Linked DNA regions of Homo sapiens. The protein of the gene in region 2 interacts with the protein of the main gene of each other region in a pairwise test. Each region holds a gene or a part of one and is shown on either strand. Other genes may lie near its edges. The genes, in order: TNMD, MYG1 and MAL2.

Region 1 (2,886 bases), on a different chromosome or scaffold from region 2:
CCACAACTTTCTTTGAACAGTCAGTGATTTGGGTCCCAGCAGAAAAGCCTATTGAAAACCGAGATTTTCTTAAAAATTCCAAAATTCTGGAGATTTGTGATAACGTGACCATGTATTGGATCAATCCCACTCTAATATCAGGTATGACATTCTTATCCTCATCCTCCTCCTATTTTCTAAGACAGTAACAGGTTAATGTTCCCAGCATTTAGAGGCTACATTTCTAGGAAAACAAATGATCGGTTTATATCTTCTTGGATGAGTCTATATATGCTGACTGCCAGTGAGGAGGGAATTTTTCACAGCCAAGTTATAAATCAGATAAATTAATGTTGACAGGCTTTTAAATATCCCAGCAAAGGTAACACCACCCTAATGTGACTAGTGATAGCAAAAAACTAATCTGTCTCTCTTTGCACATCTATATTCATTGCAGTCGGTATGCCAGACTATTGCTCAAACCACTGTGGGTCCAACCCAAGAATAGAGGAGAGAAGGGCAAAAACAATGCTCTGCTATCAAGAAGGATTCCCTATGTCAAATGGTGGCATTTTCCTTAGAAGATAGGACAATCACTGCAATACAAATTTCTTTGTTGCTGTTTTAGGAATTACTATAAAAATAGTTGAGGGCTTGATGTCCAGAGTAGAAGAGTCCAGCCCTCAACTTCCAGTCAGCCCATAGAGAAGGTAAAGGCCCCTGGATGTCTTAGTCTGTTTAGCTAACATGGAATTTGGCCTCCCTCATTCTGCACAGCATAGATTACTCTATTACCCAAGAGAGGTTATTCTCACCAATGTAAGCATCTGTGGGTACTCTTTAGAGATATTAAAAAGGTGACTAAATGCAGTGTGGTATCCTGGACTGGATGCTGGAACAGAAAAAAACATTAGTAGAAATACTAATGAAATCTGAATAAAGTCTGTAGTTTAGTTAATAACATTGTACCAATTCTAACTTCTGATTTTTGATCATTGTACCATGGTTATGTGAGGTAACATTAGGGGAAACCGGGTGAAGAATATGTGAACTCTGTACTATTTCTGCAACTCTTCCATAAATCTAAGATTATTTCTAAACAGAAAGTTTAAAAAAAATTTAAGACAAGAAACATAAGGGAAGTGGGAGGACAGAGGATGTCAAATCAATTCAGGCAACCAAGAAATATTTATTGAGCATCTACATGGGTAAAATCATCATTGTAGGAGATACAGAAGTCCCTTGTCCTCAGTTTTTAATTTAGTGTGCTATTAAGTCAAAGCAGTAAATGTTTGATGCCAAAGAAGCAAAGAAGTTTGTGTATGTAGAAATGATCAGGCTTGTTTTGGAAACTACTCTAAAATATCAGCTGAAGGAGCTTGGAAAAGTGGTCCATGCCTAAATGATGCCAGTTAGAAGACACAATGAAAATCTCTATCCCCAGCTGCTATTCTCCCAAGCACTTCTTTCAGGAACATTTGCAAAGCAGTTGCATCACAACTTTGCATTTATTATCTTAGTTTCTGAGTTACAAGACTTTGAGGAGGAGGGAGAAGATCTTCACTTTCCTGCCAACGAAAAAAAAGGGATTGAACAAAATGAACAGTGGGTGGTCCCTCAAGTGAAAGTAGAGAAGACCCGTCACGCCAGACAAGCAAGTGAGGAAGAACTTCCAATAAATGACTATGTGAGTTATGTTTATGTAAACTCTTGATAGAGGAGGAAAAAAGAGCCCTCACAAAACTTACTACCCCTCAGATCACAATCATTGGAAGGAGAACGATCATGGCTTTAACAAAAAAAAAAAAATGTTTAAGAAACTTGGAATCTCCAGGAGGCTCATTCAAAATCAATCTCGATCTCTGTAGATATATCTCCATGATCAGGCTAAGGAGCTTAATTTCTCACAAGCCCCCAACTCATACAGTCTTCTAGTTCTCCCCTGCTTGGTGAGAACTCTTGCTAGTGAACCTTCCTCTCCCACCCCCAACACTGGCTTCTTCTTCTTTCAGACTGAAAATGGAATAGAATTTGATCCCATGCTGGATGAGAGAGGTTATTGTTGTATTTACTGCCGTCGAGGCAACCGCTATTGCCGCCGCGTCTGTGAACCTTTACTAGGCTACTACCCATATCCATACTGCTACCAAGGAGGACGAGTCATCTGTCGTGTCATCATGCCTTGTAACTGGTGGGTGGCCCGCATGCTGGGGAGGGTCTAATAGGAGGTTTGAGCTCAAATGCTTAAACTGCTGGCAACATATAATAAATGCATGCTATTCAATGAATTTCTGCCTATGAGGCATCTGGCCCCTGGTAGCCAGCTCTCCAGAATTACTTGTAGGTAATTCCTCTCTTCATGTTCTAATAAACTTCTACATTATCACCAACAGCCTGATTGCTGCTGAACACACTGGGTAAGTGTTTGCTGAGAATATTCACAGCAACTGAAATGGAGCAGACCCGTCAAACATAGATGACTATGCTGAGGCTCAGAAAACAATGCCCCAAAATGAAAGCCTCAGAAGCAAAAGTTTTTCTCTGACCTTCTCCTACCTGCCAGTCTCTCAGTCCCATTCTCCCCCGAGGCTAGCCATAAAAGCTAGAATCCCTCTTCCTCAAGGCGTGTCATATAAATCAAAACCCCTTTTTTCCAAAGCCAGCCTTAAACCTAAAAATATCACTCTGATTTTTCCTCTGCTTTTCTGTGTAAAAGCTGGCCATAAGGAAATTATCTGACCTACCTTGTTTGACTGTAGGTCATAAGACTCCCTTTCCAGAGAGGATCCAACACAACAGGTTTGGAAGTAGAAAAGGGCAAAGCATAATGATACCTAAATATCATATTTTACTCTGCTGTATTAAGACAGTGGAAATAAGGAGCTGATGATAAAATGTCTCCATAAC
Region 2 (2,653 bases):
CTTTTCTTTCCCTTCTCTGCAGGGCTGGTCCACAGGCCGAATTGCCCACATCCCGCTGTACTTTGTCAATGCCCAGTTTCCACGTTTTAGCCCAGTGCTTGGGCGGGCCCAGGAACCCCCTGCTGGGGGTGGAGGCTCTATTCATGACCTGCCCCTCTTTACTGAGACATCCCCAACCTCTGCCCCTTGGGACCCTCTCCCAGGGCCACCACCTGTTCTGCCCCACTCCCCACATTCCCACCTCTAAGAATAAATAAGTTTTCCTTTTGTTTTCCACTCAGTTACCAGTCTGTCTTTTCCAGGGAGTTGCAGTGGGGTACAGTAGGGGAAAAAAGCATGGACTTTGGGTTAAGGCCCTGTTCTGTCACTTTTTAGCCACTTGTGAATTTGGTCACGTTATTTAATCCTAGAAACTATGGTTTCAAATGATTTGGGAAGCAAGGCTGAGAAGTTACTGTGAAGAAAATATATCTAGCACAGGGTCTTACACATAAATAGTTGTTTCACTTTTCACAAGTTTCTGGAATGGTGTAGGGCAAGAATAAGTCAAGGACTGGGTCAGTATGAGATGGAAGGTTTTATTAGACTAGGAGATTTGTGGGAGGTATGAGCGCTGGGCCAAGGTGGCACGGGCCATGCTCAAGGCACCCTCTCGGGTGTGGTGACCGCCAGTGAAGCCGCTTGCATGGACGAAGATGCAGCCAGGGATCCCACTGACCTGGTCCAGGGCCTCGTCCCGAAGACCCCGCCATGGCTCTGGCAGGGGCAGCCTGGGCAGAAAGAGGGAGTACAGCAGGGGTCAGAGTTGGCAGCCTTCTCTTAACAAGGCTGAGACAAGCCTGAAGGTCTGCAGAGTGGTTCCCTAGGGCCTCACCGGCTTTGGAATGAGTGGGGCTCCTTGGGCACACACTGTATTCGCCACTGTCCAGCCTGGTCAGTGTAGATAACAAAGAAGATGGCCACTGGAGGGGACAGCCCAGATTCCAGGTGGTAGAGATGCTCCTTCCAGGGACATGCACCTTTCGCCAGTTCCACAATCTCTCCACTTGGGTCCACCTGAAAGAGGGAGAGCATAGCTAGAAGGTTTAAGGTAGGCTGGGCATGGTGATCATGTTTGTAGTCACAACATTTTGGGAGGCTGAGGTGGGAGGATCAGTTGAGCCCAGGAATTTGAGACTAGCCTAGGCAACAAAGTAAGACCCTGTCTCTACAAAAAATACAAAAATTAGCTGGGTGAGGTGGTGTGTGCCTGTAGTCCCAGCTACTCAGGAGGCTGAGGTGGGAGGACTGCTTGAGCCTAAGAGGTTGAGGTTGTCTGCCACTGCACTCCAGGGTTTAGGGTAGAAGAAGCAGGAGTTCCTGTTGATTGGCAGTCAGTAATCCTCAAGCCATAATGCCTCCTCCAAGGCCTATACCTGGAATCGCTGGGCAAGGGCCTCTTCCACCAAGGCCCGGGCTGGCAGCCAGCTGTGTTGGTAGAAATCTAATCTCTGCAGAAACTCCTCTTGAACCAGATCCATTGCACGCTTGAACCCTGCCTGGGAATGATGAGAATTAGAACCATGATGCTGGCCCAAACTTGGAATTTGCTAGGGCTTAGGAGGAGCAAATGCTCCCATTTTCCCCCCACCCAAGGTTCTTACAGGTCTCCGGGTCTCCTCCCAGGCCACCTTACCTCAGTGTCTTGGTCGGGGTGGTTCCAGGTAGGATTAAGTCGAGCAACTCGTGCACTCAGGGTAGTGGTCAGTGCATATCGAGGCTCCCCCTCTGCCCACTGGGAGATCCCATTGTCCACAGCATCCACCTCCTCCACAAAGTTCTCATACATCTAAGGCAGCAGCAGGGGAAACCTTCTTGAGGCTACCTGCTACTTATGTGAAATCTTACATGATTCAAAGTATGTTCATACACACTCTTTCAGCCCTGTGAGGATCTCTCAACATTAACTGGATGAGAAAAGGGAGAATTGGCAAGTTCAGCAGCTCGCTGAAGCTCAGACAGCTCGTTGTGCTGTGACTGGAATTCAGATCACCTGATTTCTAATCCATGCTCATTCTGCTGCACAAAGCCCAAACCAAAGCCAACACGTGTAGGGAGGGGACTGCTAACTTTTGAACAAGGAAGGTCTCTAGGTGCTAGAGGCTCTCTGTGGGAGTGGGTCCCTGTGGCTGAAGGCTGGTAAATCTCCAGGTGGGGTGAGTAGGTATTCAGTGACACGGTTAATGAGGTGCAGGAGCGGCTCTGGTTGAGAACACAAGTCAAGTGGGAGAAAATGAGTGTGAGACTAGACACCAAAAGCTGGTTGCTGGGTTAGGGTTCCAGGGAAGCCCATAATGTGCCTCATGACATCAGCAGTTGTCTCCTGGGTCTGAATAAATGGTAGGATAATGCCTCAAGAGTCTCGGGGCAGAAACTTTATGCAAAATTACCCTACAAAATAGGCCTCCATAACAGTACACCTGTGGTATGTAGAAAAGTGCTACTCTCAGAGCACTGAGAAAGTAACTCCTATGCCCAGCTCTTCTTGGTTTGGATCCCAACCTGATGCTCAGTTAAAACATGGGTTTAGGCCGGGCGCGGTGGCTCACGCCTGTAATCCCAGCACTTTGGGAGGCCGAGGCGGGCGGATCACGAGGTCAGGAGATCGAGACCA
Region 3 (3,661 bases), on a different chromosome or scaffold from region 2:
AGAAATTCCTCAACCTGTAAAGTAAATGTGAGAATTTCCCAGGCACTGTCCTAAATGCTAAGTGATCTCCATTCTGGGGACCCATTATTTTAACCTCTGCCGGTGTTTCTGGATATCCTCAAACTCCATTTTAATTTTGACCTTCTGTTCAAATTCGTTTGTCTTTAAGAGTTCTTCATTTCTGTCCCATTGCCTTCTGAAACTTAACATGTGAAAATTGTACCTGACAAAGGAGGACTGGGCTATCAACAGTTGACTACGCTATTGACACCATGCTCTTGGAGTTTGGTTCTCACACTAACCATTTAACTTGGCTCAAAGTATTCATTCCCAATTCCCCTTAACGTATTCTATTCACAGCCTGTCAGATATAAGCCATTTGTTGGGAGATATTACAAAATATATAAATAGTGCCAGCCTACGAGCACCAGGAAAAGCATTATAGCACTGGCTTCTTAAGTGGAGAATATTACAATCTCACGTGCATAGTGATTTTTTTTTTTTTTTTTTTGAGATAGGGAGATAAGGTGTGTTCCACTCCTGGATACCTAATTGTCAGCTCTTTGGTTTTGGGCTTAGCAATACTTACCAATGTATGCTTGCCACAGAGTTTAATACTAAGTTAATATTGCAAAGCTAAGCCTTTTAGCTTAGAATGGAAGCCATCACCTTCAAAATTCGCACTTTCAAAATCTCACAGTTTTTTGAGTGAATATTTTATAAAAATCACTCATCGGGTATTTACTGAATACCTACTATGTGCAAGGCACTCCTCTGGGAACAAAGATGTTTAAACCCTTCCTCACCAGAAAGACCTATAACCTAGTTGAGAGTATAGTCACAAAAGTAACTACCATTCAGGGAAGAAAGAATTAAGTATGGGAAGTGAACTGCAGCTAAAACATTTTCCAGGTGGGTCTATCTACTTTAAAAAATAACATGGGATCATCTGCACTATTGGGCTGAACAAGATATTTAGGATCCCTGCTCTCAATGAGCTTATCTTGTAAAATGCACAAGAAAAATTGAATTTTTAATAGTATTAATCACGAAAAAGAATACAGATAATCATTGAATTCATTGTGTTTTATTTTGCAGTTTTAGTGTTTAAGAAACTACTTATATTCCCCAAGTTATTCATTCACATTTATCTTTGTGGGAGATACTCTAGGATTCTTATTCACATGCTTCTAACTGCAGTGTTTTGGATGCCATAGTAATTTTCATTTACTCAGCTTATAATTAAGAACATACTATGCATCAAGCCTTCTTTTATGCCCTGAAAATAGAGTAACTAACATGGCTCCTGCCCTTAAAAGAAATTACTGTTTGGTGGAATATAAAGTCAAGAAAGAATTACCATGCTGTGTATGAAGTGCTAATATAGGTTTATAAAAAGTATTGTGGAACAGCAGGATAGAGTACATCTGACTTCTGGAGAGGTCAGAACAGGCAGCTTTAATGAGGTGGGGACATTTGAGGTTAGCCTTCAATAATGAGCCATGGTTCATTAGAAAATGGGAAAGAGAATTCCAGGTAGAAACAAGGACACGTACAAACACAGAGACAAGAAGGACAATGGCAAGAACGTTCTGTCAGTTGTGAGATTTTGGTGGGCCGTGGCAGAAAAAGGAAAAACAGCAGGTAGGACTCAGGTTCTGGTTTGCTGAGAAATGCTAGGCCAAGGCATTGGATTTATTGTCTGATGGAAAGCTGTGAAGGACAGAGAGAAACTTGATCCAGCTTGTGTCTTAGAAACCTTTGAGTGATGAAGTTTGGTTGTAAAACAAAGGGACTGAAGGCAGGAAGAGCAGTTAGGGGGCTTATTGCAATAGTTTAGATAAGGGATGAAAAGAACCTGAAATAGAACCAATGAAAGAAGGATGGAGAAGGAGAGAGAGAGGTTTGAGGTTTGGGAAGTCAATTAAGTATGTAAAGTTTGACTTGCCCCAAAGTGATACCTAGACTAAACTTAAATATAAGATGTAACTCAGAGGAATTATGCCAGAAAAACAAATGTTAATGAAAGGATGATTGTGAGGGAGGGACTTTAGGGGAGGCAGGTTCAGTCATGCAGATAAATCTATGAAAGGGACTTCAGGTTATTTTCAACTGAGAGCTTTGACTTTGGACTAGTAACATGTATATGTTCTGATGTATAGAGTTTATTGCCTGGAAAATGTTGACTGTGAAGGGACATTGCTTATTTGCAGTGTGCAAGAGGGAGCTGTCCATGGACATAGTTGTCCCCTAAATGGGTTTTAAAACTGTAGGTATTTTTTTTCCTTTGCCTCTGGATTAAAAATCTTCATCCACATTAAAAGAATCTTTAGGCCGGGTGCAGTGGCTCATGCCTGTAATCCTAGCACTTTGGGAGGCTGAAGCAGGTGGATCACCTGAGGTCAGGAGTTCAAGACCAGCCTGACCAACATGGTGAAACCCCCATCTCTACTAAAAATACAAAATTAGCCAGGTGTGGTGGCACATGACTGTAATCCCAGCTACTTGGGAGGCCGTGGCAGGAGAATTGCTTGAACCTGGGAGGCAGAGTTGCAGTGAGCCAAGATCGCACCATCACCCTCCAGCCTGGGAAATAAGAGCGAAACTACATCCCCAAAATAATAAATGAATAAATAAATAACCTTTAAAGTTTCATAAGGGAAAATAAACCAATGCCCCTGCCAGAGATTATTATCAACAATCATTTGCTCCGACTGGCAGTCCTTTAAAAAAAAATACGAAGAACTGAAATATGGAAAACTTTAAACCAAGTAGCTGAAAAGATTCACCTTGAGCTCCAAAGGAAAAAGTCATAGAGAAGAGATTTGTTTTGTAGAGCCTGATAGAAATGTTGTACGTGGTGGTAGGAGCTGTGGACATGGTGTATTTGCAGTGATATGGCTGAATAGAAATGACCCTGTAATGACAAAGGACAGGAACCAGGTTGGCATACCCAGTATCATGCACATGCAGTACTTAACAAATGCTACTTGTTTGTTCTATAGTACAAACTGAGCAGTATGTGAAAATAGTCTGGAGACATTGGCTGGAGTGGAGAAGGGCAGCTTGGGAGTAGATGCCCTCTTAAATCTTGCCCAACATGTAAACTGCCATAATTCTTCTCCAGGTTTCTGCACTTTAACTTGAATTTCCTAAGTGTTCTATTTTATATAAGAGTACCATATCCTTTTATAGACAACATATATAACAATCTCAACTTCTGTATAATAGCTATGAGAAGGAGGAAGGTAAAAAGAAAGGAAAGAGGCAGTGATTTATACGGGTCTGGCCAATATCAGGGCATTGGCACGCAGGAACAGCTTTAAACTAAAAGTGATAACTAGTTACCTGCAAACATGAAAAGGGAATTTTCAAAATCGAGAGGAATTATTATAAAGAAGAATAAAAAGAACCAGAACATATTTCTCCTCTGTAATATGAGCTTTCCATTTTAGGGTCGGTGTCAGCTATTTAAGCAGCTGAATTGGAGGTTTAGGTCACATGGGGAGGAAGAAAGTATAACTCTCTATAGCACTCTCAGACATATTTTTAAAGCCTTCAAATGTAAAGCTAAAAAGTAGAACTTCTTTTGCAATGAGTATTAACGTATTTTGGTCATAAGCCTCTTATGTGTATGTCATTTCTCATTACATCCCAGAAT

The links.
Region 1: the proteins of MYG1 (region 2) and TNMD interact in binary tests that used the Homo sapiens proteins (3 or more experiments, as listed by UniProt).
Region 3: the proteins of MYG1 (region 2) and MAL2 interact in binary tests that used the Homo sapiens proteins (3 or more experiments, as listed by UniProt).

What each region holds. Positions count from the first base shown.
Region 1 is NC_000023.11:100,597,517-100,600,402, forward strand, and holds the end of TNMD (tenomodulin), read left to right. Parts: coding exon 1-141; intron 142-1,499; coding exon 1,500-1,666; intron 1,667-1,991; coding exon 1,992-2,201; 3' UTR 2,202-2,369; downstream 2,370-2,886. UniProt on the Homo sapiens protein: May be an angiogenesis inhibitor.
Region 2 is NC_000012.12:53,305,083-53,307,735, reverse strand, and holds the end of MYG1 (MYG1 exonuclease precursor), read right to left. Parts: intron 1,829-2,653; coding exon 1,676-1,828; intron 1,539-1,675; coding exon 1,416-1,538; intron 1,057-1,415; coding exon 875-1,056; intron 771-874; coding exon 587-770; 3' UTR 559-586; downstream 1-558. Other genes in the region: AAAS (aladin), read left to right, coding at 23-247. UniProt on the Homo sapiens protein: 3'-5' RNA exonuclease which cleaves in situ on specific transcripts in both nucleus and mitochondrion. Involved in regulating spatially segregated organellar RNA processing, acts as a coordinator of nucleo-mitochondrial crosstalk.
Region 3 is NC_000008.11:119,211,205-119,214,865, forward strand, and holds part of MAL2 (protein MAL2), read left to right. Parts: intron 1-3,418; exon of another isoform or gene 3,419-3,661. UniProt on the Homo sapiens protein: Member of the machinery of polarized transport. Required for the indirect transcytotic route at the step of the egress of the transcytosing cargo from perinuclear endosomes in order for it to travel to the apical surface via a raft-dependent pathway.